7 separate regions of the Homo sapiens genome follow, and regions 1, 2, 3, 4, 5 and 7 are each linked to region 6. Evidence: fine-mapped expression QTL. A gene starts in region 6. Each other region holds a variant in brackets. All regions are shown on one strand. Distances are between the middles of the regions.

Region 1 (4,075 bases), 360 kb after region 6:
AATTTGGGGGACACAGTTCAGCCTGTAACAGTTGCTCTGCACAGCCCCGCTCGGTTACATCATAGATGTTCGCACACGTCTGTGCACGTGAACTACCTGTTATCTGTTGCACATGCAGCGTTACTAAACAGGGTTCCCTTATACCTCCCGGGGTTCCTGGAGTGGCGTCTTCTCTTTTGCTGGGAACCTTGCCGCCTTTCCTCTCCCTGCCCCTCCCAGCCCGTGTGGGCCACCTGCTGTGTTCCACGCCTTCCTTTCTCCTCTGCTTGTGCAGCGGAAGGTTCTGCCAGCAGGGGAGTTAGTGAGCAGCCAGTGGAGGGTGTGCCCAGCCTTCCTGCTGCAGACCCGCCCCCAAGTCAACACGGACTTCCCTCCCTGCGTGCCAGAACTTCGCGTTGTTCTTAGTGGCATCTGGGGTCGAGGAGGGCGACTGTCAGCCAGTTGGGGGATGTTTTCTTCTTGGTCTCTCGGCTTCTGCTTCCCTGTGAGCTGGGCAGCCTCAGCCCAGGTCCTATCCGGTACTCAGCTGGCCTCGGTGTGCACAGCGCAGGCTTGAGTGCAGCCGTGGGGGCGGGCAGGGCAGCAGCAGGGCCCCTGGGAACAGCTGAGTCTGAAGGGTCAGAAGCCATGGCCCCTGTGGGGGGCTCTGGGGCAGCCAGGGGAGCTGCTCGTTAGTCGTCTCTGGGGCAGAAGGAAGGGACCTTCACCTGGATTGGGACTGGGCCTGGGTCCCCAGTCTCACAGGGAGCTTGTCCTGATTGTACCTGCCCAGCCTGCCCTGCAGAGGGGAAGGAGGCCCTTGGCTCGGAGTATGCCTGCCCTGGAGCTCCCAGGCCCAGCCGGGGCCCGGGGTGGGGGCCACTCACTGGGCACAGGTGCAGGGTGCCTATGGCCAGGCCTGGGGTGTGGCCGGTCTCCATGCTGCAGAGCCGGAGGCCTCTGTGTTCTCTCCCTGCCTTCCCCTCCTCCCTATACCTGCCCCTCCTCTCTACCATCCTACCCAACCTCTCTCTCCTGGAGCCCTCCAGCCCCACCCCTCCCCGTGTACACTAAGTGCCCAGGCGGGAGGGCCTGTGGGTCCTGCTGAGCCACACAAGGCCCCAATCGAGCAGGTAGCAGGTGGTGTGCTGCGAGCTGCTTTTCCCTCCTGGGTCAATTCCTAAGCCCACCAGGCGATCGATGAAGAGCCACCTGCCTCTGGGTAATGCTGATAGGTGAGAGCCACTCAACAGCGCTTTTATTTTTTTTTTTAAGGAAGCCGCACTCAGCCACAAGCTGTGCGGAAAGCTATAGGATTATCAAGATCAAAAGGTCAGCCCTCCGCCTCCTCTCCTCCACCAGAGCCTCACCCTGGCCACGGCGGGTGCTACCCTCGATGTCACGGCCTGGCCACCGTCTTACCCCCGTCCCGGTGCTGCTGCAACGTCTCCTCCTGAGACGCTTCCCTGACCATCCCAAGCCACGGTCACCCCCTCTGTCCTCTGCACTGTGGCCCAGCCTGGCCGTGCGATGACACGGTTGTCTGCCAGTGTGTGTCACCTCCCCAAAGCTGATGCGCTGGTGGGAGACCCCGGGTCTTACCAGCCGTGCACCGAGACGGCCTCGCTGCACTGACCTCTGGCGCCAGCCACTGTCTGCTGGGCAGCCTGACCTTCGTTTTCCATCCCCACTCCGGTGCAGATGGAGAGCCTGGAACACCGTCCCGGGATCCCCGGTGGCCAGGCAGAAGCACCGACCCTAGCATGGGGTGCTCAGAGAGGCCCGCCTGTCCTCAGCCTGGGCCTGTGTGTGTTCCACGCCTCCCCACCGGAACTGACCCTGGCGTGGGGTGCTCCAAGAGGCCCTCTGGCCTCAGCCTGGGCCTGTGTGCTCCACGCTTCCTCCCTGGTGCCGACTTGATGGGCTCAGCATCCATTCTCGTTCAGCCACGGGGAGCAGTTTCAGGGCCAGGAGTCCCTCAGCATCTGGAGGCAGGATAAGCCCTGCCTGCTCCCCAAACACACGTCTCCCCACTGGGCTTCAGGGCCAGCTTGGGCTTCG[G/A]TGGGGGTGTCCATCAGGGGTGAGCTGCGGCCCTTGTCAGGGCACATCCTGCACCCGGGGTGCCCACTCCCCCATGGTGGTCGGGGGTTACAGTGAGGGAGGCAGCAGTGGGCAGCTGGTGTGTCCCCTGCCAGGATCTCCCACTACCCCTCCATCCACCGCAGAGCCCCCTGCCCAGCCCCAGAAGAGCCCCTTGGCCCCCATCCGTAGAGAGCCCAGGTGCTTTGCCCGTACCCCTCAGCACTGTCCAGCCCCGGCCGTGCCGTGCTCCTACTAGCTCTCCACCAGGGCTCCCCACCTGCCCCTCCCCACCGCCCCTCGCATCCTCCAGGACTCAGCCCAAATGCCACCTTCCTTGAGGCCTCCCCAACCTCCTCCCAGAGCCCTGCCCCTGCTCCCACCCTCTTGCTGTAATTACAACCCCATTTAGGGCTGGCGCTCTCTAGCCCATTGAGGCCCCAGGACAGGACCCGGACTCGCGCCCCAGCCCGTGAGGTCCAGAGGGGACTCCCCAGCCGGGGATGGGGCCTGTGAGCCAGGCTCCCTGCACACATTTACGGTGGGGGTCAAGGCCCCCCTTATGAAAAGGGACACTGAGGCAGGAGAGGCTGCACCAGAATTGGAACCGGGCCCACCAGCCCCACGGGGGGCTCCTCCCCGCTCCTCCACGGCTCGGCATGCAGCCCTTCCCTGTGTGACTCGTTGCGTCATTGCTGGGCTGGGCCCTTTCTTCTCTCCGTTTCTCACCTGGGGATAAAGTCCCCAAAGTGGGATTTCTGGATTAAAGATCACGGCCATCTCTCTCTCCGTGACAGTTTCCGGCTTTCTCTCCTTCTGACGCGCCCCCCACCCTGGGTGTTTGAATTGACTGGAAGCGTTGACGTTTTATTGACGTCCATCGCGGTGTCCTCTCCAAACAGAACGATCCTCACTGTGGAGTTCGATCTCAGCACACAGAAGGCTCGGAGCTGGCTTTTCATTCCTGTGTTTATTCGTTCAGCAAGCGTTTCTCCATATCACCCGTGTCTGGCCCTGTGCTGGGGGCAGATGAGAGAGGCACGGTCCAGTGCCCAGGAGTCCGCAGCCAGGAGGACAGCCCTGGAGACCTGCCCGTGTGAGTGTGAGCCGGCGGGAGCAGAGAGCGGCCTCTGCCCTGGGCTGCGTCCTGGAGGTGATTTTCAGCCTGGATCCTGTTCTGGAAAGAAAGGCCTCTCGTTCAGCTGAGCCCAGTTCGGTGTCGCAGGCGACTGTTGGATGCCAGACATGGGCTAGACATGAACAGGAGGAGCTGCCTGCCCTGAGGCTCAGGGCCTGGGAGCAGAGACAGACGGGGAAGCCGCAGCGCAGAGGGTGAGGGCTCACCCAGGAGCAGGTGCTGTGGGGAGGCCTGGTGCACCTGGACCAGGGGCCTCACTTCCTGGGGCTCAGGGCCATCGGCCAGGCCGCTGGGCATGACCTGTCATCTGGGAAACGGTGCGGCAGCCCCAGTGTGGCCCCGATCCTCTCTATAGAGTGTTTGAGTCCCAGGCCTGCAGCACCCCGTGGGGCTCACAGTGTGCATGTCTGACCCTGCAGGCAGCCCTGCGGGGTAGGTGTCAGCCTCTCTGTCGCGGGACAGGGGACAGAGGGAGCGCAGATGGCCTGCAGGGTGTGGAGGAGGCTCCCCAAGGCCTGGGGCCTGGACTGGGCTGTTTGGGCCTGTATCTGTCAGCAGGAGCTGCCGCCTGGGAGTCATGCTGGAACACAGCAGAGCCTGGAGATGAGAGGTCTTCATCCTGTCTCTCCCTCCCTCTGCTTTCTCTGTCCTGTGGGCTCTGAGCCACCGTAGTTCTGCCCCCTCTCTTCTCATCTCCTCCACCCCCAAGTGTGGGGACCCTAGACCCTGTCCCCTCCATGTCCCCTCCACATCTCCTCTGGGGCTCCGAGCTGCTGGCCCTCCGGGGAAGCCTGCACCGCCATCACAGGTGCAGGAGTTCAGAGTGGCAGGCGTATGTTGGGTTCAGCGTGGCAGGCGTATGTTGGGTTCAGCGTGGCA
Region 2 (4,075 bases), 310 kb after region 6:
TCTGTGTTTTCCAATCACTTGCTTCTTGGAGCGTCTTTAAAATCTCACTCGATAATTCCAGCATCTCCGTCATCTTGGCGCCTGTTGGTCGTGTTTTCCCTGGCAGGTTTCTGTTTTCCCGGTTCTTTTCATGCTGCTTAATTTTAGATTGCATTCTGGATGTTTTGAATATCCCGAGATTCTAGGTCTTTCTTAAGTTCTCTGGAGAATGTAAATTTCTGTTGGTTTCAGCATTTCCTGATGGCACTTCCATTTCAGGCTCTTTGCCGAGTTTCCCAGGCCATTGAACCTTGTGTCCTCCACAGTCCTGGCTGGGTCCTGGTGTGGTCTAGCTCAGAGTCCAACTCTCACACCTGTGGGGTGCTGATTAGGGTCAGAGCCCCATGCCCAGCTTAGAGGGCACCTTCCAGAGCCACTCTGAGCACCCAGCACTTCCCAGGTGACCCAGGGTTCCCTTCACTGCCTTCTGGCCACAGAGCCAGGCAAGGCTTGCCCACTGTGCTGTGCAGTCAGTCCCACGGCCACAGCCGCCTTCACGGCCAACGCCAGCCACAGCGTTGGAACAGGGCAGGACATGCCCCACGCACCCTGTCTGGAGGGAGGGGCCCACTCTTGGGCTCTAGGCGTCTGTCCAGCTGTGGCTGTACCTCCGCAGGATTGCCCGGGTGCCGGGGCGGAAGAGCGCGGGGTTGCCCGGCTGCCGGGGCGGAAGAGCGCGGGGGTGCCAGGGTGCCGGGGCGGAAGAGCGCAGGATTGCCTGGGTGTCAGGGTAGAAGAGGATGGAGACAGACAGAATTTCCCACACTGCCTCTCAGGCTTCTCTTGACAAGCTGTGTGCGTCTTGTGCTCACTCCCAGGTTTTAGGGGTCCCCAAGTCCAGACTGGGTAGCACCAGGGCAAACACCCAACCAGTGACAGAAACTCCAGCAAGCTTCAACCACAGACTGCAGAACTCACCCAGTATGAAATAGATCGTCTCATTAATCCTAGAACCATTAAATAACTGAATCCACAATCAAAAAGCTTCCAAAAAAGGATATCTCCAGGCCCAGATGGTTTTCTGGTGAATTCTACCAAACACTTAAAGAAAACTTAGCACCAATTTGCCAAAACTCTCCAAGAAAACAGAAGAGGGAGCACTTCCCAACTCACTCTGTGAAGCAAGCATTTACCCCAACTTCAAAACCAGTGGCAAAACTGAAGAACACTGCGGGGCTATTTTCTGTTTTCTGAGAGTGCAAGGCTGGGTTGGTGTCGAGCGTCAGCTGGTACAATCCATCGCGTCAGCTCGCCAAAAGGAAAAATTACATGGCCAAACCAACGGATGCACAAATGCAGTCAGCGAGGCCCAACACACGTTCATGGGGAAACTCGGCAAACCAGGAGAAGCCGAGAACCCCCAAGTTTGCCAAAGAGCATCTGCAGAAACCGTGCAGCTCACCGCAGACCTGGCTGGTGAGGGACTGGGAAACGCCGACTCAGGCAGAGGCCTTCCCTCTCACCGCCTTGGTCCATGTCCCAGAGCCCCAGATGGGCAGCAGGGTGAGGAGGTCGAAGGCACACGGACTGGAAAGGCAGGAC[C/T]GACCCTTTTCCTCTTCACAGGTGGCGTGATTATGTCGAAAATCACAAGATAAAAACGAGTCGAGCGAGTTCACCCGGGATTTCTGTGTGTGGCTCTTGTATCCTGCAACCTTGCTGAGCTCACTTTATGAGAAATATGTCCGTGTGTCTGTGTAGTTCTGTAAATATTACACAATAGCAGTGCACATGTGGAAACCGAAATTAAAAACATGCCGTTTCTGTTCACTCTTCTGAAGATGAAATCTGCAGGCATCACTAACACCACAGCACGCCGACAACGGCAAGCTGCTGAGGCGAGGCGTGGGAGGTCTGTGTGAATGGAGACTCTGCCTTCGTGGCTCGTGGGGTGCAGCGCAGTAAAGACGCGGCGCGGCCAGGTCCAGCTGCATGTCTCTCGCAGCTGGAAGCAGGGCGCTCGCCGCTGGGCTGGTGATGCTAGTGGTTCTGGGTTCCGACCTCAGCCCGCCTGCAGCCTGTGGCTCTCCAGGTCTGTAGTCGGCTGCTGGCTGCACTCCCTCCATCGTCAGAGCTGCCTCAGGGAGAGACAGGGCTGATTGGTTTCTTCATCTTTCCCAGAACCTGAACCCCTCGTCTTCAGGTTCTCTCTTATCTGTTAATTCCGTTGCTTTTAAGCTTAGTAAGTACTTTAGTGATTTGATAAATAATTCTATTTTCTTCTGGGCTCTTTGAGCTTATTTTTATATTTAAAGATTTAATCTACTTGAAACTTATTTTGGTGTATGGTATGAGGTCGAGATCTAAATTGATTTTTTTTCCAGATCACTAAACAATTGCCCTAGGGCCATTTATCTCAGAATCCTTCCTTCCCCGTAGATTTATACCTTCATCTTTATTAAAACTTAGGCAAAATCGGGTCTGTATTCAGATCTTTTGTTTTTTTTAATTTCATTTATCCTTTTTTTTGACTTAAAGGTTTTCTTACCTGTTTATTATTCTAAGTTAATTTTAGAATTACTTTGTCACGGCCAGGCGCGGTGGCTCATGCCTGTAATCCCAGCACTGAGGCTGAGGCGGGTGGATCACCTGAGGTCGGGAGTTCAAGACCAGCCTGGCCAACAAGGTGAAACCCTGTCTCTACTAAAAACACAAAACGCCAGGCGTGGCGGGAGGGTGTCTGTAGTCCCAGCTACAGGTACTATAGATGCTGAGGTGGGAGAATCGCCTGAACCTGGGGGATGGAGGTTGCAGTAAGCCAAAATCACACCATTGCACTCCAGCCTGGGCAACAGAGATAGACCCTGTCTCCAAAAAGAAAAAAAAAAAAAGAATTAGTCAAATTCAAAAAAAAGGTATCAAGGTTTTATTTTTTACTGAAATTACACTGAAGTTATAGGTTAATCTAGTGGAAGAATCTTTGGCTTTCCAGCGTCTGTGTCTGAGCAGGGAAGGGCGCCTCAGGGCCGCCTCCCTCACCGATACCACGTCTCAGACCCGCAGCGTGCCGGGGTTCCCTTTGCAGGCTCCGGTCCAGGCAGGAGTGTGTCATCTGGGCTGCCATCTGCTGGGCAGGGGTCCTGAGTCCCCACTGCTGGCTCCAGGCCGCCTCTCCGCCCTCTTCCCACCTCCCCACCCTCTCTTTGGGTTGCCTGTCTCGTCGTCTCCAGGGCTCAGAGCCGAGCTTTGCAGGAGGAGCAGGGAACATGAATCTGCACCCTTTTCTGTCTGGACCGGATGTCCCGTGAATCTTTTTTATTCAGTCAATGAAGATTAGGGTTTTTTGCTGTCGGTTTTTAAATGGATACACAGTGTTCGTGCATCGTTATGGGGTGTAGGTGATGTTGTCTTGCATGCCCAGAATGGGCAGTGGCCACACAGGGGTATTTGGGGTATCCGTCACCTCATGGACTGGTCATTTCTAAGTGTTGGGAAGACCTCCTGTCCTCTCTTCTCACTGTTTTAAAGTAGACAGCACATGTGGCTGACTGTAGTCCGCCCCCACTCGGCTGTGGAACGTGAGGTCTTACTCCTTCCATCTGGCTGTGCGTCTGTACCCACTGACCAGCCTCCGTTCATCCCCGCCCACCCCACACCTGCACCCTCCTTCTCCCCCAACTCCATGCGATGGGTTCCCCCCGCTCCCGTGGGTGAGAGCGTGCAGCGGGTCTTCCTGTTTTAACCACTTCCCTTGGTGCCTCTGAGGAATCGCTGGGTCCACAACACAGTGTGAGGCTGCCACGGCAGCCGAGTCTCCCCGACTTTCTCTGCCCCTGCTCCTCCCACACACTGTCGCTGCTCCATCTGCAGACAACACAGCCCCGGGCGAGCTTACTGGGCAGGGTTCTGCCGAAACACAGAACTCGTAGAATGTGTGTACACACGCACATGCACACGCACGCACGCACGCACACGGAGATGCTTGTTACAGGGAGTTGGCTCACGCAATGACAGGCAAGTCCCGAGAGCTGCAGGGTTGGGGGCAAGCCGGGGACCCAGGAGCACTCATGTACTGGGGAAGGACAGGGATGCTGGGCCC
Region 3 (4,075 bases), 470 kb after region 6:
TAAATGGGATGACGATGATTCTGTCGGAGCTGAGATGCGGCTGGCACATACCGGTGTGGGGTCCGTTTCAACCAGGCAGTGCTGGGGTCCTGCCAGTCATCATCATTATTGTTATTATTGAGACGGGATCTCGCTCTGTGGCCCAGGCTGGAATGCAGTGGTGCAATCCTAGCTCACTGCAGCCTCGACCTCTTGGGCTCAAGCAATTCTCCCGCCTCAGCTTCCTGAGTAGCTGGAACTACAGGTGCTCACCACCACGCTCGGCTAATTTATTAATTTTTTTAGAGACAGGGTCTCACTATGTTGCCCAGGCTGGTCTTGAATTCCTGGCCTCAAGCATTCCTCCTGCCTCAGTTTCCCGTAGTGTTGGGATTACAGGTGTGAGCCACCACGCCCAGCCCAGTTATTAAATGTTTTGAACATCACTCCTATCTGTCCCCATGCGGTTATTGTGAGGACAACAGGAGTCCATGCTTGTAAACTTTGGAGAGCAGGGCCTGGCACACAGCAAGGGCTCCGCGAATGTTTTTATTGTTGCGTTTCTCAGGCAGGCAGACTCTCCCCAGACCCATCCCATCCTTACAGATGGTAATTCCAGAGAAAGAAAATGCTTTCATTTCCCAACACCCATATACCCAATCTCACGGAGGGACCGACGGCCGGGCTGTGATCCATTGCTGTGGTTGGGGAGATGGAGTTCTCTGATTGGCTCCGATTGGTTCATGGCTTCACCCCTTTGGTGGGGACGGCATCCCTGGGAGTGCGAAGGAAAGAGGCTCTGAGGCCGGGGTAGTGGTTGCTGGGTAGATACTAACACACACGCACACACGTACACACACAGGCACACACATGCACACATGCACACACATATGCACACATGCACACATGCACACACAGGCACACACAGGCACACATGCACACACAGGCACACACATGCACACACGCGCGTGCACACACACAGCACACACGTATGCACACTCGCACACATGCACACGCACACACGCATGCACACATGCACACGCACACACGTGCAGACACGCACACACATGCACACACACGTGCACACACAAACACGCACGCACGCAAACGCACGCACACACAGAAAAAAAAGAAAAAAGAAAAAGAAATGTCTTCTCCACTGGGGCATATAAAAACCCACTTTGCATAAAAGGAAAGTTACGATGTTGCTGCATTGAAGACAATATTATAAAGATGTAATTTCCCTCCAAGTTAGTCTATAAATTTAAAGCAATCCCACACAAAAGCCCAGCAAGCGTTCTGCAATGTGGGATCGTGATTCTAAGGCTCATCTGAAGAATGCTCTCATGAGAACAGCAGAGAAAAATGTGGGAATAGAAAGGAATAATGAAGAGGGCTTACCCTATCAGACATTAAAATGCATCACTAGCTAAACCAGCTAAAGCAACCTGAATCTGGGGAGGAAGAGACAGATAGATCAATGAGTGAGAACGCAGGAGCCGGGAACAGACAGCACCTAGACGAGGATTTAGTGAGAGGTGGGAGTGGCGTCTCGCGTCAGTGGGTGTACAATGGATTGCTCGATAACCGTGCCGAACACCTGGTCAATCATTTGAAAGAAAATTCCAAAGCTCCCTACTTTGTATGCCAAACTGAAATAAATCCCAGAGTAGTAAATGTTTAAGATAAAAGGATATTGGGCCGGGCGCGGTGGCTCATGCCTGTAATCCCAGCACTTTGGGAGACCACAGCGGGCGGATCACTTGAGTTGAGGAGTTCGAGACCAGCCTGGCCAACATGGTGAAACCCCATCTCTACTAAAAATACAAAGATTAGCCGAGCATGGTAGTGGGCACCTGTAATCCCAGATACTCAGGAGGCTGAGGCAGGAGAATCTCTTGAACCCGGGAAACGGAGGTTGCAGTGAGCCGAGATCGCACCACTGCACTCCAGCCTGGGCGACAGCACAAGACTCTGTCTCCAAAAGAAAAAAAAAGATATCGAAAAACAAAAAGCAAATTATATATTATTTTCTATTAGGAGCA[G/C]TCTGGGTTTCTTAGTGATTAAAAATAGGGCCTGTGGAAATCTTCCAGGTGAGGCCTCTGCGGCATGGCATGGTGTGGTGCAGCTCACCCGTGCTGTGCAGAATGCCAGCGATCCATCCGTCTTCACCGCTGCCGGCGTTTAGTCTCTGGTCATATTGTAATTCGGTCCTTCCCCTGTTGGTGGACGCTTCAGTCGTTTCTATTTTTGGCTGTTGTGAATGGGACTATTATGAAATTCTGAAACAAAACAGAATCTGTAAAGACAAGAGATGGATAAATTTTGTTAAATAAGCGTTCAAAACATCTTCACATCAAAATAAACATGGGCCCATGGGCACATGCCTCGGTGCAGCTTTTGTTTTTTTCTTTTTTTTGAGATGGAGTCTCACTCTGTCCCCAAGGCTGGAGAGCAGTGGCACAATCTTGGCTCACTGCAACCTCCACCTGCCAGGTTCAAGCGATTCTCCTGCCTCAGCCTCCCGAGTAGCAGGGATTACAGGCGCCCACCACCACCATGCCCAGCTAATTTTTTTTTTTTTGTATTTTTAGTAGAGATGGGATTTCACCATATTGGCCAGGCCGGTCTTGAACTCCTGACCTTGTGATCCGCCCACCTCGGCCTCCCAAAGTGCTGGGATTACAGGTGTGAGCCACCGCACCCGGCCCTCGGTGTGACTTTTTGGTGGGTGGGGTCTGTCTGCCTGTCTGGCCCCCCAGGTCCCATAGCTGCAGGTGGCGGCCCTGCAGCCCTCCCTGGAGACTTAGCCCCTGGAGCTGCCCACCCTAATGCAATGATGTATCAGGAAGTTCGGTCCCCACCCCTGGTTGCCTGCAGTAAGTTCCTGACGGACCCAGGGCAGGGCAGATTCTGTGATTCCTTCTGTGTTGCAGAGTCCTCTGTGGGATCAGGCAGAGGCCTCATAGGGCATAGGGCATCCAAGCAGCTCAACTTCTCCACTCTCCTTCCCTGTCAGAGGAAGGGCAGGTGGAGCCGGGAACTGGCAGCGTCCTGGCCGTGCTGGTCTGCGAGGGCTGCCATAACGAACACCCCAGGCTGGCCGATTTAAACCACTGACATTTATTGCTCACAGCTCTGGAGGCCGGAAGTCCTCGGTCAAGGTGTGGCAAGGCTGATTCCTCCTGAGGCCTCTCTCTTTGGCTTGTGGATGGCCGTCTCCTCCCTGGAGCCTCACAACACCGGCCCTCTGTGGTCCGTGTTCAAATCTCCTCTTCCGGCCGGGCGTGGTGGCTCACGCCTGTAATCGCAGCACTTTGGGGGGCCGAGGCGGGAGGATCACCTGAGGTCAGGAGTTCGAGACCAGCCTGGCCAACATGATGAAACCCCATCTCTGCTAAAAATACAAAAATTAGCTGGGCATGGTGGCAGGTGCCTGTCATCAACTACTCAGGAGGCTGTGGCAGGAGAATCACTTGAACTTGGGAGGCAGAGGTTGCAGCAAGCCGAGATCGCACCACTGCACTCCAGCCTGGGCAACAAGAGCGAAACTCGTCTCAAAAACAAAAACAAACAACTCTCCTCTTCCTCCTGAGAGAACCCCCTAATCACTTGCAAAGAATTCCTGTCTCAGGCTCTGCCTCGAGCAAGCTCAGCCTAAAACAGTTAGTACCAGACGTGGCCCTGCAGACCTGAAGGATGACCTCTTGATACTGCCCCCACCCACTCGGCAGGTGGCCAGGGGGCCCCTGGTAACAGTCTTTGGCAGGCTGGGATGTTTCCTGAAAGGTAAAAGACAAGCGACGGTGCCTAGTACCTTCTACCACGAAGACAGGAGCACCGGGCTCCGTAGGCTGTGTTAGATGCAGGAGCAGATTATTCTGCGTTAGGTAAAACGGCTCTGCCACACTCATCAACAGGCATGGAAAATGCCAGGTTCAAGTGGCGCCTTGATGCAAGGACTCTGCCACAGCTCGAGGCTCAGGTCCAAGGAATCCTGCCACTTGGGCCGTTTGGCCGGCAGATCCCGTGGCGCTCCAGGCACCCGCGGTGGGTGAGTGTGCTGGGTAGGATGTCAGGCCAGGCACAGTGCAGT
Region 4 (4,075 bases), 880 kb after region 6:
CAGGGAGCGTTGTGCCAGCAGGAGGAACAGCCATGCAGGGTCACAGAGGAGCCAGTGGCTGCCACGGGCTGCAGTGGGGAGCGAGGCTGGCCAGGCCCCAGGAGCCTCGCAGGGTCCAGGGTGTCCTATCTAAGTGCAATGGTCAGTCACTGCCATGGGGCTGACTCGGGCTGACGGAATGAGATTGGTGCATAGAAAACTTCCCTCCGGCCTCGGCAGACGGATTCCAGGCTTCCCTCATGCCAGAGGGGCCGCAGGGGTGTAAGGGAAGCGGCTGGAGGTGGGTGCATGGAGCTCAGGAGGGAGCCAGGGGCCATCTGGCTGCAGGGTCAGGTGGCCAGGCTGTTAGTGGGGCCGTGGAGGGAGAAGAGGGTTTGGAGGGCATCCCTGCCAAGCCCTCCTAGGCCTGGTGTCCAGGGTGAGGGTCAGTGTGACACCGCCCATCCGCAGGCCTTCCCTCCCGCCTGCACCGCGCCCACCTCACCCACCTCACCATGCCGCAGCTAACACTGTCAGCTGGTAATTGTCCTGGTCCCTTTATCCTGCGCTTTAATAAATAATTTACCTGAATTATTCACATGGAAATTTCAACATTATTAAAAATTAACCAACTTAAATGAGTCCATGGTAAATAGCTGGGTGGCTCTTCCCAGGCTGGATGCCGAAGACCGGGACGGGGGCAGCCCCGAGGGGAGGGGCGGCAGGTGCAGGGCAGGTGAGCAGGGGGTGGGGATAGGCGGGCCTGCGGGGCCGACAGGGCCAGACCCACCCTTGGGAGCAGCCCCAAGGCAGCTTGGAGACAGAAGCCCTGTGCCCCTGACCCCTCACAGTCTGGGCAGCCTCAGGAAAGTATGCACCGCTCTGGGCCATTCGTGCAATGGGATGGCCCCCACTTGCTCAGAGGACTGTGGAGAGGGCCGGGCGAGGAGGGTAACCAGGGGCAACGTGGGATGGTGAGCAAGGAGCCTGCTTCCGTCTAGAAAGCAAATGCACTCTCCCGCCTGGCTGGGCCATGCACGGAAGTGCTTCCCGGCTCAGTGGGCATCAGCAGAGGAGCTCCCTGGGCATGGTGGGCCGTCCTGGGTATGGGGCGTCCTCAGCACCTGCAAGGCCTGGACACAGAGTGCTGAGCAAGGGGTGAGGGAGCTGATGCTTTGCTATAACCGTTTCCCAAGCATTTTCCTTAACATCTCTGCACAGAATGGCACCCCAGCGCCTGCGTCACTGAAGTCAACGTCCTGTGCAGCTTTATTCATTGTGATTAAAGGGTGGAATTGAAGGGTGCTAGGCTTTGGGGAAACATTCTAGATATCTAAACTAGTTGCTGTTTGCAAAATCGTCTTCACCAAACAGAGGTGCTGGGTGCAAATGATTTGGGGTCGGCGTGGCGCCTATGGACAGGGCAGCGGAGAAACCGTACTTGCCCGGTGAGCTGCAGAGGCCTGGGCTCAGAGAGCCTCGCCGGGAACCTGCCCCTGCCTGCACTGTCACCAACACCATGGCCATACAGGATCCCCGACAGGCCTGTGCCTCAGGCACCTCCATGTCGCAGGTGACAAAGCTTAGACACAGGAGGAAACAGATTGCCCTGCAAGGAAACGAGCCAGGGTTTGGACACAGGTGGCTCACGCCTGTAATCCCAGCACTTTGGGAGGCTGAGGCGGGCAGATCATTGGAGGTGAGTGAGAAGTTCAAAACCGGCCTGGCCAACATGGTGAAACCCCGTCTTTACTAAAAATACAAAAATTAACTGGGTGTGGTGGCGGGCACCTGTAATCTCAGCTACTCAGGAGGCTGAGGCAGGTGAATCGCTTGAACCCAGGAGGCAGGGGTTGCAATGAGGTGAGATTACACCACTGCACTCCAGCTTGGGTGACAGAGTGAGACTCTGTCTCAAAAAAAAAAAAAAAAAAAAAAGCAAAATTAAAAATGTGTAGTTGGCCAGGGACAGGGCCCGAGGTTCTGCATTTGTGACCAACTAGAGCAGAATAAGACAAGGTCTTGTTGATGGTGGCCGCTCCATGGCCCACATTTAAATCATGCCCTTTATCCCACCATATCCCGAGTCCCGAATCCAGCCCACGGCCACAGGGTGCTGTCTCTGCACACCACTCCCATCTCCTTCAGCCTGGGACCCTCAGCCTTTCTTCATCTTTTCTGCAATTAACATTTTCAAAAAGTCCAGGCAGGATATTTGTAGAATGTCCATCAATTCGGGTTTGTCTAACGTTCCTCTCGATTTCAATTTATTTTTATTATTATTTTGTTTTGAGACGGGGTCTTGCTCTGTTGCCCAGGCTGGAGTGCAGTGGCACAATCTCAGCTCACTGCCACCTCCACCTCCTGGATTCAAGCGCGTCTTCTGCCTCAGCTTCCCGAGTAGCTGGGATTACAGGCGCACACTACCATGCCCGGCTTATTTTTCTACTTTTTTTTTT[TC/C]TTTTTTTTTTTGTAGAGACGGGATTTCACCATGTTGGCCAGGCTGGTCTTGAACTCCTGACCTCAGGTGATCTGTCCACCTCGGCCTCCCAAAGTGCTGGGATGACAGGCGTGAGCCACCGCGCGCGGCTGACAGTTGATTTTTTTGGAAACCCCAGGTCTGCTGTTCAGAGCCCAGTGGGTGGGGAAGGCGGTGGGCAGGGGACATGCCGCGCGGAAGCTGCTGCGGGGTCTCCTGCCCGCCGCCGCCACCCAGGCCGAGGTGCAGACGGAGGATTTAATTGAACAGGGCAGTCACACCTCACCTGGAGCGCCTCACAACCCTTTGGGGTGGAGGAGAGGCTCCTTCACCTGCCTCGAGCCTGACTTGAAGTTAATAAAATCCCGGCCAAAGGATGACCTCGAAGCCGGTTCCCTGTCCTCCTGAAGGCCGCGGCAAGGCCCCTCATAAAAGGTTATTAAGGAAAGTAAATAACTCAGCCTGTGGGGGAGGCTTCCTGGCAGAGGCATTGGGGGCCCTGGGAGAAGGCGAGGGCCTGGACCTGTGTGCCGGTGGCCGAGAGTGATGGGGGCCTGGGCCCTGCCTGTAGCTATCCATGTAGGGAGGGGTGGGGTAGGGTGGGCGGTGGCTGCCCAGATTCCTCTTGGAAGCTCTGGTTATAAACCTGAGCATAGAATGTACAGGTTGGGGCAAACGTGGGCTCCTTTGGGGCCCTCTGGGGTTTACATCCCTCTGGGACGCAGCGGGAGCTTAGCCTGGGGAGGTCCTGGCCCTGTACTGGGGGCATGGTGTGGAGCTGGGGGCGGGGGCCTGCACCTGTGGGGCCGCTGCACTGGCTCAGCACGTCGGGCGTGCGTGTTAGGGCAGGAGGCCCGGCCGCAGCGGCTCCCCTGCTCAGGGAATGGCCTCTTCTCTCTTTGGAGTTTGAGGCCCCAAAGGCCTCAGGGGCAGCATTAGGGTCTTGTCCTAAAGGACTCTCCAGGAGCTGTGGGTTGGGATCCCGTGGGAGGCCCGTATGCTGCCCAGGGGACTGGGGACTCCCCTGTGTGACTTGCAGGGCAGAGACAAACCCTCAGTACCTTCCAAGCCTCTGTGTGCTCACCTACAGGTGGGGATGGTCAGCAGAGACGCGGGAGGGAGCAAACTGGAAAGCGCGGCACCCATCGGGGTCGGCAGCCATAGCTCATGGGACGCAGGATGGACGCCCTGAGCCTGGGCGCTGAGCCGCCATCTGCTCTGGGCCAGCTCGGTCAGCCCCGAGTCCCCCTGCAGATCTTGGCTCACCACAGCCGAGGGCCTCCAGGCCTGTCCCGAGACCACCAGGAATGGGCCCCTCCCAGCCTCCAGTGGCCGGGCAGCTTGGGTGGCCCCAACTGAGGGCCAGGGGACTCCAGCGGCTGTGGCCTTTCCCTCAGCTGCCCCTCGCCCCCACCCCCTACTAAGATTTCAAAACTTACTACAAAGCTGCAGTAATGAACACAGTGTGGTCCTGGGGTAAAGACACGCATGCAGATTAAGGGAATAAAAGAAAATTCAGAGACCAGAAATAAACACACTCGTTCACTGATTTTTTCCAACAAGGGCATTCAATGGGCGTTTTCCACAGACGGTGCTGGGACAACTGGACGTCCACAG
Region 5 (4,075 bases), 330 kb after region 6:
GGGTCACGGGCCGCTGTCTCCTGAGGGGGCCGCACACTGCAGGGGCCAGGGCGGTCACCCTGTCTCTCCGGACCATGCTCAGGTGATCTTTTGGGTGTCCTTGCGGCCCAGACCGCACTGCCCCCTCACTCCACACCTGGACTCAGGCCCGCCACTCAGATCCCGCGCCGAGCACCCGTGATGTCCGTAGACAGCCAAGTGGTTGTTGACGACACAGGGATGTGTTTTATTAAGAGGAACACGTTATTGCCGAGAGGGTTTTCGCCTCCACTGTCTCACTGACCCGGGGGCAGGTGATGTTTCCCCCACTCCTGCCACACCCAGGGAGGAAAGGGGGCTTAGAGAGATGAGGTGACTTGTCCGTGAACGCACAGGCAGTGTATGGAGCCTGGAATCACTCCCTTCCTCCTGGCCCCGTGGCGGCGTCATCAGTGGGGCCGGGCCTACGCCGAGTAGGATTGTCCTCCTGGCTTGGCCTGGGCCTCAGGGGCTGCCTTGTTTAATGGTGAAATATTAGTCCCTTTTTGTGGGTTTTTTAAAGCCTGAAAATCCCAACATTGGTTAACTGTATTTGATTCATTGTTTAGAAAGAAAAATGGCTGTGCCGTGAGTCCCTGAAGGAAAAGTTCCGAAGCTGCCTCCAGTCCCTAAATCGAGAGTTGCTGCAGAGTCTGGGGCTTGGGGTCCTCGGTGGCAGCTGTGCAGGGCCCAGACCCAGGCCAGCTCCTCACTGGGGCACCGGTCCAGGTCGGGCAGGAGCTGGGGGACCGTGGGACAGGGGCAAGGCGGTGGCAGTGGGGAGATAGTGGGGATGGGGGCGTGGCAAGGGCTGAGCAGCTGGGAGCTGCTCTGAGGCCATGGGTGCCCTCACCGCCCCTCGCAGGCTGAAGCCCCTGGAGGCCCCTGGCTCTCACAGTGACCCTGTTAGCCACAGCAGGGATGGGGTTGGGGGCTTGGGGGCGGGGCAGTGGCATGGCCTCTCTTCGGCCTGCCTTGATTTTAAGGGCTTTTCATCTGAGGCCATGGGAAGGCTGTATGTTCAGGGATGAACACGGGTGTTCAGGGACAGACGCACACGTGTTCGGGGATAAACGGACGTTCAGCAGTAGGCGTGTGTGTCCCGTCCGCTGTGTGTGTGCTTGCTTGTGGTTAAGCTGACTGTGTAGCTTGCGCAGGGGCAGGAGCTCAGGTCTGTAGGGGATGGTGGCTTCGCTCACCTGCGTGTTCAACACGCACCCGTCGCGCACTTCCATGTTCCGGGTTCTCAGGTGCAGGGCAGGTGTGACAGTGCGCACAGGCCTGGCCCAGCCCACCTGAGCTCAGGGTGCGCCGCAGGGAAACAGCATGAGGCCCAGTTGCACTGCAGGGAAAGAGCGTGAGGCCCAGGCATCTCAAACAGCTCTGTGGACGCCACAATCTGTGCCCTGCAGGAAAAGAGCATGCGGAGAACAGGAGCCAGAGACTGGAGCGATGGAGAAGCAGGGTGCAGGAGAGGCAGCTGGAAAGGGAGGGTGGCTCAGGGCCCTGGGGCGGGGCTGGGACCAGGTCAGGCTAGGGCCAGATGCAGCTGCAGTGGCAGCCAGGCCGGGGCACCCAGCAGGGCATGAATATCCCAGGAGAGAGCCCTGCCTCAGCTCAAGTCTTGCTGTGGGAGCATGGAGATCTGTCTGCATGGCCGGGGTTATCCTGGACGGGGTAGCAGGAGCGGTGTTGGCATACACAACCGAGGCCAGCCTGGGAAGAGGCTGCTTGGGGTTCGGGGACCCTACAGAAGCACCAGGGCTGGCGTCTCTTCCTCCTGTGGGGTCTTCCCACGTGGGCCAGCTGCCTCAGCTGTGCAGGGGCTGGTCTCCTCAGGGCAGTGCTGCCTGGTGCCTGCGGGTGCTTGGTAAACAGCTAGGCCCCGGCTCTTTTTTTTTTTTTTTTTTTTTTTGAGATGGAGTCTTACTGTGTCACCCAGCGTGGAGTGCAGTGGCGCAATCTCGGCTCACTGCAGCCTCTGCTTACTGGGCTCAAGCAATTCTCCTGCCTCAGCCTCCCGAGTAGCTGGGATTACAGATGTGCGCCACCACGTCCGGCTAATTTTTGTATTTTTGGTAGAGA[C/T]AGGGTTTCACCATGTTGGCCAGGATGGTCTTGAACTCCTGACCTCAGATAATCTGCCTGCTTTGGCCTCCCAGAGTGCTGGGATTACAGGTGTGAGCCACTGTGCCCAGCCCCAGGTTCCTCTTAAAATCATCCCAGGACACAGATGGGGGTCAGGCCGGCCTCACTCACGGGAGAGGTCCCAGAGGGAGGTCACAGAGCCCAGGCCCACAGAGCTATTCCAAGCACCTGGAACAGTGCTTCACCAATCATGAATTCCACAAGAGCATCTTCCATAGGCTACTGCGTCCTCGCTGCCTGGAACAGTGCTTCATCAATCATGAGTTCCACAAGAGCGTCTTCCATAGGCCACTGTGTCCTCGCTGCCTGGAACAGTGCTTCATCAATCATGAGTTCCGCAAGAGCGTCTTCCATAGGCCACTGCGTGCTTGCTGCCTGGAACAGTGCTTCATCAATCATGAGTTCCACAAGAGCGTCTTCCGTAGGCCACTGCATCCTCGCTGCCTGGAACAGTGCTTTATCAATCATGAGTTCCACAAGAACGTCTTCCATAGGCCACTGCATCCTTGCTGCCTGGAACAGTGCTTTATCAATCATGAGTTCCGCAAGAGCGTCTTCCGTAGGCCACTGCGTCCTCGCTGCCTGGAACAGTGCTTCATCAATCATGAATTCCGCAAGAGCGTCTTCCGTAGGCCACTGCGTCCTCACTGCCTGGAACAGTGCTTCATCAATCATGAATTCCGCGAGAGCGTCTTCCGTAGGCCACTGCGTCCTCGCTGCCTGGAACAGTGCTTCATCAATCATGAGTTCCACAAGAACGTCTTCCATAGGCCACTGCATCCTTGCTGCCTGGAACAGTGCTTTATCAATCATGAGTTCCTCAAGAGCGTCTTCCGTAGGCCACTGTGTCCTTGCTGCCTGGAATAGTGCTTCATCAATCATGAGTTCCACAAGAACGTCTTCCATAGGCGACTGCATCCTTGCTGCCTGGAACAGTGCTTCATCAATCATGAGTTCTGCAAGAGCGTCTTCCATAGGCCACTGCGTCCTCGCTTGCCTGGAACAGTGCTTGATCAATCATGAGTTCCGCAGGAGCGTCTTCAATAGGCCACTGCGTGCTTGCTGCCTGGAACAGTGATTGATCAATCATGAGTTCCGCAAGAGCGTCTTCCATAGGCCACTGCGTCCTCGCTGCCTGGAACAGTGCTTCATTAATCATGAATTCCGCAAGAGCGTCTTCCATAGGCCACTGCATCCTCGCTGCCTGGAACAATGCTTCATTAATCATGAATTCTGCAAGAGCGTCTTCCGTAGGCCACTGCGTCCTCGCTGCCTGGAACAGTGCTTGATCAATCATGAGTTCCGCAAGAGCATCTTCCATAGGCCACTGCGTCCTCGCTGCCTGGAACAGTGCTTGATCAATTATGAGTTCCGCAAGAGCATCTTTCATAGGCCACTGTGTCCTCACTGCCTGGAACAGTGCTTCATCAATCATGAATTCTGCAAGAGCGTCTTCCATAGGCCACTGCATCCTTGCTGCCTGGAGCAGTGCTTCATCAATCATGAGTTCCGCAAGAGCGTCTTCCATAGGCCACTGCGTCCTCACTGCCTGGAACAGTGCTTCATCAATCATGAGTTCCGCAAGAGCTTCTTCAATAGGCCACTGCGTGCTCGCTGCCTGGAACAGTGCTTCATTAATCATGAATTCTGCAAGAGCGTCTTCCATAGGCCACTGCGTCCTCGCTGCCTGGAACAGTGCTTGATCAATCTTGAGTTCCGCAAGAGCGTCTTCAGTAGGCCACTGCATCCTCGCTGCCTGGAACAGTGCTTCATCAATCATGAGTTCCACAAGAACGTCTTCCATAGGCCACTGCGTCCTCGCTGCCTGGAACAGTGCTTCATCAATCATGAGTTCCGCAAGAGTGTCTTCCGTAGGCCACTGCGTCCTCGCTGCCTGGAACAGTGCTTGATC
Region 6 (4,000 bases):
GATGGAGCAGGACAAGTGGGGAGTCTCTCTCTCTCTTTCTCTCTCTCTCTTTTTAACCAAAAAGAGATGACAAAACTAAGTTCAGGGGCCATGGAAAATGAAAAAGTCCGCTATATTGTGATTTGGGAAGAGAAAGTTATCAAGAGAAAGAGGTGAGGATGGAAGGATGGAGAAAAACAGACTGTGGGAAGGATCAGAAGGAATCCGCCGAGGCAGGGATGGGTGTGCCCATGTGTGCCTTGACGGGACTTCATCTTATAGACTGTTAAACTGTCACACACAAACAGGCTTTCCACCCCTGCTCTGAGAGCACCACGCACAGATTTCCAGTTCTTAGTGTGGCTGTTTAAAGTAGAAAATCTGGGGGCTGGGTGAGGCCACTCATGCCTGTAAACCCAGGGCTTTAGAAGGCTGAGGCTGGGGGATTGCTTGAAGTCAGGAGTTCAAGACCAACCTGGGCAACATAGCAACACCCCCCATGTCTACAAAAATGAAAAACCAAAAAGCAAACCAAAAGAAAAATCTGAAATTTCCATCTGGGGATTAACTTCTGTCTTTCTGGTGAACAATATAGCAATTCACGCATTCTTCAAGCAGCAAAAGTTCCCGGAACAATTAGGGAAGACGTATGGTCTGAATTTATCCAGGCAGTGGGTCTGCTTTGGTTTTTGCTGGAAATTTATATCAGTGTCTGGGCTCCCAAGAACATAAATGTAATTGCCAAAGCAAGCAGTGATGTGGTGTGTTTATTTTCTTTTACTCATCTAGGAACTTGACGCAGCTTTATATTTAATAAAATAATAGAGATTGCATTATTTTAAGGTACTTTCATGCTTTGAAGTTTTGTTTTTTTTAAACTGGCTTCCTCAAAGCCATTTCCTGGAGGTGTACTCATCCCTCAAGAAGAGTTTGTTGACTATGATTAAATTCCAAGGACCAGTGGGGGAAGTCTGGAAACCCAGGAATCTCCATCAGGAATCTGGGGCTCTGTCCAGCTCCCCGAAGGAAACTGCGGGTCAGATGTTTTGATTTTTTTTTTTCTTTGAGAAACAGAATCTCACTCTGTCACCCAGGCTGGAGTGCAGTGAAGTGATCTTGGCTCACTGTAAGCTCCACTTCCCGGGTTCACGCCATTCGGCCTCAGCCTCCCGAGTAGCTGGGACTACAGGCGCCCATCACCACGCCCGGCTATTTTTTTTTTTTTTTTTTGTATTTTCAGTAGAGACGGGGTTTCACCGTGTTAGCCAGGATGGTCTCGATCTCCTGACCTCGTGATCCGCCTGCCTCGGCCTCCCAAAGTGCTGGGATTACAGGCGTGAGCCACCGCGCCCGGCCGCCAGATGTTTTGACTTTTCATTTTATTTCTGGTTGCAGTCAGGTTGTTAAGTCCAGGGACTCTTGCCCTACTCCACCTCGTTCTCTTATTCCATTTCATTCCCGGGGCACACAACTTGGAAGTCTTTCTCTGAAAGAAGGAAAATTCATTGCAGACCCTTAGGAACAGCATCTTCTTAGAGGGAAGCCAGGGGCTGGGCAGAGACGGGAGGAGGAGAGGAAGAGAATATGGAAACGAGTAAGGCACACTCTTCTCAGGAAGGCTCCAATTTGAAGGATAGACAAAGGTTACCATAATAATGGTGGGGCCTGACCTCACCCCATTGGATGCTGTGCCCTGGCTTGCAGAGCACTGGGAAGGTAGCCTAGTAGCATAAATTGCATTTCTAGTGGGCCCAGAAAAAAGCAAAATAACGGATTGATTCAAGCTGATACTGAGTAGCAAAATTTTGGGAAGAGTCAACGGTGCAAGTTTGTCCGAGGAGGCTGCCGTGGGCGCGGCTATTCCACACATTACGGCGCGAGGCGAAAGCCTTAGTGGAAGCGCGTCCTGCGCAAAGCCGGGGGGCCCCCGACTGCGCCTTGGCTCAGCCTTCGGTTCCGAGTCCTTTCCGTGCGGAGTCTCCCAGGGGTGGCGGCTCCGGGTGCGGACGCGGAGTCCCCAGGATCAGCCGGTGCGCAGACTCGGTTCTTTACGGCCCGATTGCCACGCAGGTCTCGCGAGAGCGCAGGCGCAAGTGTCGCGATAAATGGGCGCCGGCGGAGCGGAGGGAGATCCGAGCGGCGGCGGCAAGCTGGCTGCGAGCGGCTGAGGTAAGCGGCCCGGCTCGCGCGGGCGGCGGGGTCCCGGGGTCCCGGGGGTCCCGGGAATGGCAAGGGAGGGGCCGAGGGCCCGGACCGGGTGTGCTCGCCAGGGTGGGGCACAACGACCCAGACCCCGTGCCTCAGGACCCCGCGCCCGCCCCGTCTCCCATGGGCGCGCTCTCCTCTCTGTGCTCTCCCCTCCTCTCCCCACTCCCCTGTCCCCACTCCCCCTTTGGGCTGTGCTGGGGACAGCGGGCCCCTCGCCTGGGTCTCCGCAGCCGTCCCTTGTGCCAGGGCGGGCGGCCGAGGGGCGCGTGCTCGTGGTCCCAGCCCCGGGGTCCCGCTGCCTACCGTGTGGGTCCCCGGGCTAGGGTGCCGGCGCGCCGAGGAAGGGGCCTGAGCTGGCGCCTGGTGGAGAAGTCGGGGCTGCAGGGGCTCTTGGCATCCTGGTGGCTCGCGCCGGTCCGCTCTCAGGAAGGGGGCGTGTGGGCCCGGTTTCCCCTCGGGGATGGCAAGGGCCACCCTGATCTCGTTTGGGCAATGGAGGAATTGGGCTGTGGAGCCTCCTTCCAGGCGGGCCTGCCTCTGCGGGGCTGGCAGCCTGGGGAGCTCAGGCCTCTGCTTGCACCAGGCCAAGGTTCTTGTTAAATGGAAACTCAGAAACTGTGCAGCTGCAGAAGTTCTACCTTTGGCTTTTAAACGCGCTTGGCTGTTCCCTAGTTGTGGCTGGTGGGCCGGCCTGCCATGAGCCCATAGTAAGCGCCGGTGTTGGGGGTGCAAAGTTCTTTACTGCGGTTTGTCTTCAGCCTTCCAAAGCCAGACAGACCCAAGTTCCAATCTCCGTTCTGTAACTTTTTGAAGCTTCGGTTTCATCATCTCTAGAATCTGTGTAAAAAGACCTAATTCACCACCCTGTTGAGACTGAGCTTACAAATATAGTGCTGGTCAACCTGCAGCCGTATTCCCATCATCTAGCGGTGGAAGACTTGAGGGATATTGGCCCCGTTCCCCACAACTTTGCAAGTAGATTTCACTGTCATGAGTTTACAGATGAGGAAACTGAAGTTCAAGAAGTCTCGGTGCTCGGAAATGTCAGATACCTTTCTTTCTGATACCTAGTTGAAAATAGTAGTAGTACTTATTAATGTCACTAGAAATAAACAATGAAAATGAGCACAGCTGTGATGATCATCATCTTTACTGTCACTGTTGCATGCCTCGTTTCTGATTCCCAGAGGCCAGATTTTTTTTTTAATTAATTATTATTATTTTTTGAAACGGAGTCTTGCTCTGGCACCCAGGCTGGAATGCAGTGGCGCGATCTCAGTTCACTGCAACCTCCATCTCCTGGGTTCAAGAAAATCTCCTGTCCCAGCCTCCGGAGTAGCTGGGATTACAGGTGCACGCCACCACATCTGGCTTTAGTAGAGATGGGGTTTCACCATGTTGGCCAGGCTGGTCTCGAACTCCTGACCTGTGGTGATCTGCCCATCTTGGCCTCACAAAGTGCTGGGATTACAGGCATGAGCAACAGTGCCTGGCTTATGTTTATTTATTTATTTATTCATTCATTTATTTATTTTGAGACACTGTCTCACCCCGTTACCCAGGCTGGAGTGCAGTGGTGCGGTCTCAGGTCACTGCAACCTCTGCCTCCCAGTTTCAAGCGATTCTTGTGCCACAGCCTCCTGAGTAGCTGGGATTACAGGCGCACACCACCACACCCGGCTAGTTTTTGTATTTTATTAGAGGTGGGGTTTTGCCATGTTGGCCATTCTGGTCTTGAACTCCGGACCTGCCTCCGCCTCCCGAAGTGCTGGGATTAGAGGCGTGAACCACCCTGCCTGGGCAAGAGGCCAGA
Region 7 (4,075 bases), 430 kb after region 6:
AGGCTCTGTCCACGCCATTATGTTCCTCCAGAAGTGTGGTTTCAACGGCCGCCAAGAGCCCCACTGACTGCCTTAAATATCTGATTCCCCCTTTTTGTCAGGAAATTCAGTTTTTCCCTTTCGTTATGATTATTTCTCAGCAGTCACCTCTAAGCCACGAGCCCCCCGACCTCCAGCCCATGCCTTACAGGAGCCTCCCGGGAGATCGCCAGGGAGCGGGAGGAGGCTTGGAGGCTTCAGCTGAGTTGCTTTTTCCCAATTCACTCCCGGAGTGGGCCCCCAGGTTGCAGAAGAGAAACCGAGGCTCAGGGAGACCAGCAACACAGCCATACAGTGGTGGTCACTGAGAGCGGGAGAAATGTACGTGGGAAGGAGACGGAGTTTGTAGTTTAAAGAAAAAGCACTGGCCAGGCACGGTGGTTCATGCCTGTCATCCCAGCACTTCAGGAGGCCAAGGCGGGTGGATCACTTGAGGTCAGGAGTTCGAGACCAGCCTGGCCAACACGGTGAAACCCTGTCTCTACTAAAAATACAAAACTTAGCCAGGTGTGGTGGCACATGTCTGTAATTCCAGCTGCTTGGGAGGCTAAGGCACAAGAATTGCTTGAACCTGGGAGACAAAATTTGCAGTGAGCCGAGATCACGCCACTGCACTCCAGCCTGGCTGATGGAATGAGACTGTCTCAAAAAAAAAAATTAATTAATGAAAAATAAATAAATTAGCTGGGTGAGGTGGCACATGACTGCTATCCCAGCTACTTGGGAGGCTGAGGCAGGAGAATTTTTTGAACCCAGAAGATGGAGGTTGCAGTGAGCCAAGATCGCACCATTGCACTCCAGCCTGGGCGACAGAGCAAGACTCTGTCTCAAGAAAAGAAACATGGCCAGGTGCAGTGGCTCACACCTGTAATCCCAGCACTTTGGGAGGCCGAGGCGGGCAGATCACCTGAGGTCAGGAGTTCAAGACCAGCCTGACCAACATGGTGAAACCCCATCTCTACTAAAAATACAAAAATTAGCCAGATGTGGAGGCGCGAGCCTGTAATCCCAGCTACTCGGGAGGCTGAGGCAGGAGAATCGCTTGAACCCGGGAGGTGGAGGTTGCGGTGAGCCGAGATCACGCCACTGCACCCCAGCCTGGGCGACAAGAGCAAAAAAACTCCATCTCAAAAAAGAAAAGAAAAGAAAAGAAAAACATGCAGTCGTGAACCCACCACTCCATCATACCCCAAAACCCTCCCACCCTCTGACACTGGGTTTTTTTTTTTTTTTCTTTTTTCCCCCAAGACGGAGTCTCGCTCTGTCACGCAGTCTGGAGTGCAGTGGTGCAATCTCTACTCACTGCAACCTCCACCTCCCAGGTTCAAGCAATTCTCCTGCCTCAGCCTCCCAAGTAGCCAGGACTACAGGCGCACACCACCACACCCAGCTGATTTTTGTATTTTTAGTAGAGACGGGGTTTCACCATGTTGGCCAGGCTGGTCTTGAACTCCTGACCTCGTGATCTGCCCGCCTTGGCCTCCCAAAGTGCTGGGATTACAGGTGTGAGCCACCACGCCCAGCTGGCACTATGCTTTTAAGTCCTGGGAATAACTTGTAGTGTGTGCGTCCCCCCAGGCTGCCGCAACAACATCTCATAGACCAGGCTGCTTACAAACAACAGAAATCCATTTCTCTCCGTCCTGGAGGCTGGAAGGCAAAGATCAAGGTGCGGGCTAGTTCAGTTCCTGGGGAGGCCTCTTTGTGGCTTGTGAGTGGTGTCTTTTCCCATGGCTGGGAGGGAAGGAAGGGGGAGAGGGAAAGAGGAGGAGAGAGGAAAGAGCTCTCTTCTTATAAGGCCACAGTCCTATCAGATCAGGGCCCCACGCTTAGGACTTCATTCAACCTTAATCACGTCCTTAAAGCCTTATCTCCAAGCACGGTCACACGTGGGCTGGGGCTGCACCGTGGATTTGGAGAGCGCGCAATTTGGTCCATAGCACGTTTAGCTATGTGATTTAAGCACATTTAGCTTGTGATTTTAATATTTAGAAGTATTTGATTAAAGTCTGTAATCAATACTTAAATACCTGGGAAATGTTATTGGTTAATTTTTTAAATTGGGATTCATTAATTGTGCAATTGTGTTTAAATACTTAGGGACATAGACTTAGGAGGTTTGTAAGGCGAGTGAACTGATCAGGAGACAAGCAGAGACAGGCGGGAGGGCGTTTCCGCATACGCAGGAGCCCCCTGGAGATGAAAGATCCCGGAACAGAGACGCGAGGAGGCGCTTTCGTCAGAGGCCTTCCAGCCAGACCAACTCCATCTTGAACAGGGGCTGGGAAAAATGGGGCTGAGACCTGCGCGGCTGCAGCCCAGGAGGCTGGGTGTTCCTCGTCACAGAATGACACAGG[G/A]GGTCCCAAGACACAGGACACAGAGACCCCGCTGATAAAACAGGACGTGGCTAAGAAGCTGGCCAAAGTCCACCAAAACCAAGATGGCGACGGACGTGACCTCTGGTCATTATTGACAAGATGCGACGGACATGACCTCTGGTCATCCTCGATGCTCATTATGTGCTAATTATAATACAGTGGCATGCTAAGAGACACTCCCACCAGCGCCACCACAGTTTACAGATGCCATGCGGACGCCTGGAAGTTCCCCTCTATGGTCTAAAAAGGAGAGGAACCCTCAGTTCCAAGAACTCTCCGCCCCCTTTCCTAGAAAGCTCATGAATAATCCACCCCTTGTTTTGCATATGTTCAATAAATTACCATAAAAATAGCCAGCCGGCGGCCCCGGCAGCTCTGCCTATGGAGTGGTTACCCTTTTGTTTCTTGACTTCACTAATAAACTTGCTTTCATGTGACGCTATGGACTCGTCCTGAATTCCTGTGTGAGGTCCAAGAACCCCCTCTTGGGGTCTGGATCGGGACCCCTCTCCGGTAACAGTTTGTGACAGAGCAGGAGTTTTCCCATCTTGGACAAATACCACCATTCTAAAGTTCACTTTGATCAAAAGCCGCCTACATCCAAAGGGCATCAGCCTAATGGCTAAGGTCAGCATGACCATAAACCACAAATAACATCTCCGTCCAGAAACATTCCAAACCCCTCCCCAACCAGAGATACGCCAGCCCTGAGATAACCCCCCTCCAGCCGGAAAGAAGTCAGCCCACAGACAACCTGCCCTCCTCCCAGAGACATTCCAACCCCACCATAAAACTTCTGCCCCACACAGAAACATTCCAAACTTGTGATAAGCCCCCTCACCCTAAAACCAATATATACCCTTACTCTGTAAGAGAGAGCGCTCCTGACTGGGTGTGGTGGCTCACACCTATAATCCCAGGACTTTGGGAGGCCAAGGCGGACGGATCATGAGGTCAGGAGTTTGCGACCAGCCTGGCCAACATGGTGAAAACCCATCTCTACTAATAATAAAAAAATTAGCTGGGCGTGGTGGCGGGTGCCTGTAGTCCCCACTACTCGGGAGGGTAAGGCAGGAGAATCACTTGAACCCGGGAGGCAGAGGTTGCAGTGAGCCAAGATCACGCCACTGCACTCCAGCCTGGTCGACAGAGCAAGACTCCATCTCAAAAAAAAAAAAAAAAAAGAGCACTCCTGACCAAAAATCGGCCAGAAGCCCCTCTCTGGTTTATTCCTCCAAAATAAACCTGTCTCTGACTGTTGGGCTGCTTTTTGTGTTTCTTTCCTCTTTGTGTATATCTTAGAGTTTGTCCCATGTAGAGGGTGTGAAGCCAGGTCTCTCTTGCAGGCTGCTGGCCCAGTGTGACCTGGAGTCAGGCAGAAGCTGAATTTCTCTGCTAGAGTGAGCACCATCTCCACCCCCAGCCAGGGACTCCAGAGAGGCCTCGGATGTCACAAAACAAGTCATTCTCCTGGGCTGTCCCCACACCAGCCACTGGCCATCTCCTCTGTTCAAGCCACCAAGGGGCTCCTGAAGCCCGGTTTCTAGTTTAGGGATGAGTGATCGGAAAAACTTTAAGTGACCAAGAAAACTGCTGCTGAAAGATGCCGTCTGTGCAAGGTAAACATGGTGACGTGAGAGTGGGGGACAAGGCAGGGA

Which allele goes with the higher level. Alleles are on the strand shown, and positions count from the first base shown. SD is a standard deviation of normalised expression in the study named. Not every link is listed here.
In carriers of allele TC in region 4, the expression in monocytes after LPS of the gene that starts at base 2,075 in region 6 tends to be higher than with C alone (large effect, 1.0 SD a copy in Quach 2016).

Evidence for each region. PIP is the estimated chance that this variant, and not a neighbour inherited with it, causes the effect.
Region 1: its variant is fine-mapped to the expression of MAD1L1 in whole blood (INTERVAL, PIP 0.98).
Region 2: its variant is fine-mapped to the expression of MAD1L1 in whole blood (TOPMed, PIP 0.98).
Region 3: its variant is fine-mapped to the expression of MAD1L1 in whole blood (TOPMed, PIP 0.95).
Region 4: its variant is fine-mapped to the expression of MAD1L1 in monocytes after LPS (Quach 2016, PIP 0.95).
Region 5: its variant is fine-mapped to the expression of MAD1L1 in whole blood (TOPMed, PIP above 0.99).
Region 7: its variant is fine-mapped to the expression of MAD1L1 in whole blood (TOPMed, PIP 0.98).

Annotation. Positions count from the first base shown.
Region 1 is chr7:1,871,724-1,875,798 of GRCh38, reverse strand. The region is part of intron 18 of MAD1L1 (mitotic arrest deficient 1 like 1); the gene reads left to right. Among named protein-coding and RNA genes, the nearest start is that of MIR4655, 30 kb to the right of the region's middle. RefSeq lists enhancers at 1,194-2,166, 2,797-2,966 and a cis regulatory region at 2,881. The variant G/A (reference allele first, on the strand shown) is at 2,041.
Region 2 is chr7:1,920,109-1,924,183 of GRCh38, reverse strand. The region is part of intron 17 of MAD1L1 (mitotic arrest deficient 1 like 1); the gene reads left to right. Among named protein-coding and RNA genes, the nearest start is that of MIR4655, 78 kb to the right of the region's middle. The variant C/T (reference allele first, on the strand shown) is at 1,582.
Region 3 is chr7:1,759,346-1,763,420 of GRCh38, reverse strand. No RefSeq gene overlaps it. Among named protein-coding and RNA genes, the nearest start is that of ELFN1-AS1, 19 kb to the right of the region's middle. The variant G/C (reference allele first, on the strand shown) is at 2,025.
Region 4 is chr7:1,351,688-1,355,762 of GRCh38, reverse strand. No RefSeq gene overlaps it. Among named protein-coding and RNA genes, the nearest start is that of MICALL2, 110 kb to the left of the region's middle. The variant TC/C (reference allele first, on the strand shown) is at 2,439.
Region 5 is chr7:1,903,908-1,907,982 of GRCh38, reverse strand. All of the region lies in intron 17 of MAD1L1 (mitotic arrest deficient 1 like 1), which reads left to right. Among named protein-coding and RNA genes, the nearest start is that of MIR4655, 62 kb to the right of the region's middle. The variant C/T (reference allele first, on the strand shown) is at 2,104.
Region 6 is chr7:2,231,020-2,235,019 of GRCh38, reverse strand. It overlaps MAD1L1 (mitotic arrest deficient 1 like 1), which reads left to right and starts at 2,075. Exons shown (of 19, transcript NM_001013836.2): 1 at 2,075-2,148. It overlaps MRM2 (mitochondrial rRNA methyltransferase 2), which reads left to right. Exons shown (of 3, transcript NM_013393.3): 3 at 1-825. RefSeq lists enhancers at 690-1,222, 1,957-2,086, 1,872-2,166 and silencers at 1,801-2,179, 2,157-2,576.
Region 7 is chr7:1,802,783-1,806,857 of GRCh38, reverse strand. No RefSeq gene overlaps it. Among named protein-coding and RNA genes, the nearest start is that of MIR4655, 39 kb to the left of the region's middle. The variant G/A (reference allele first, on the strand shown) is at 2,397.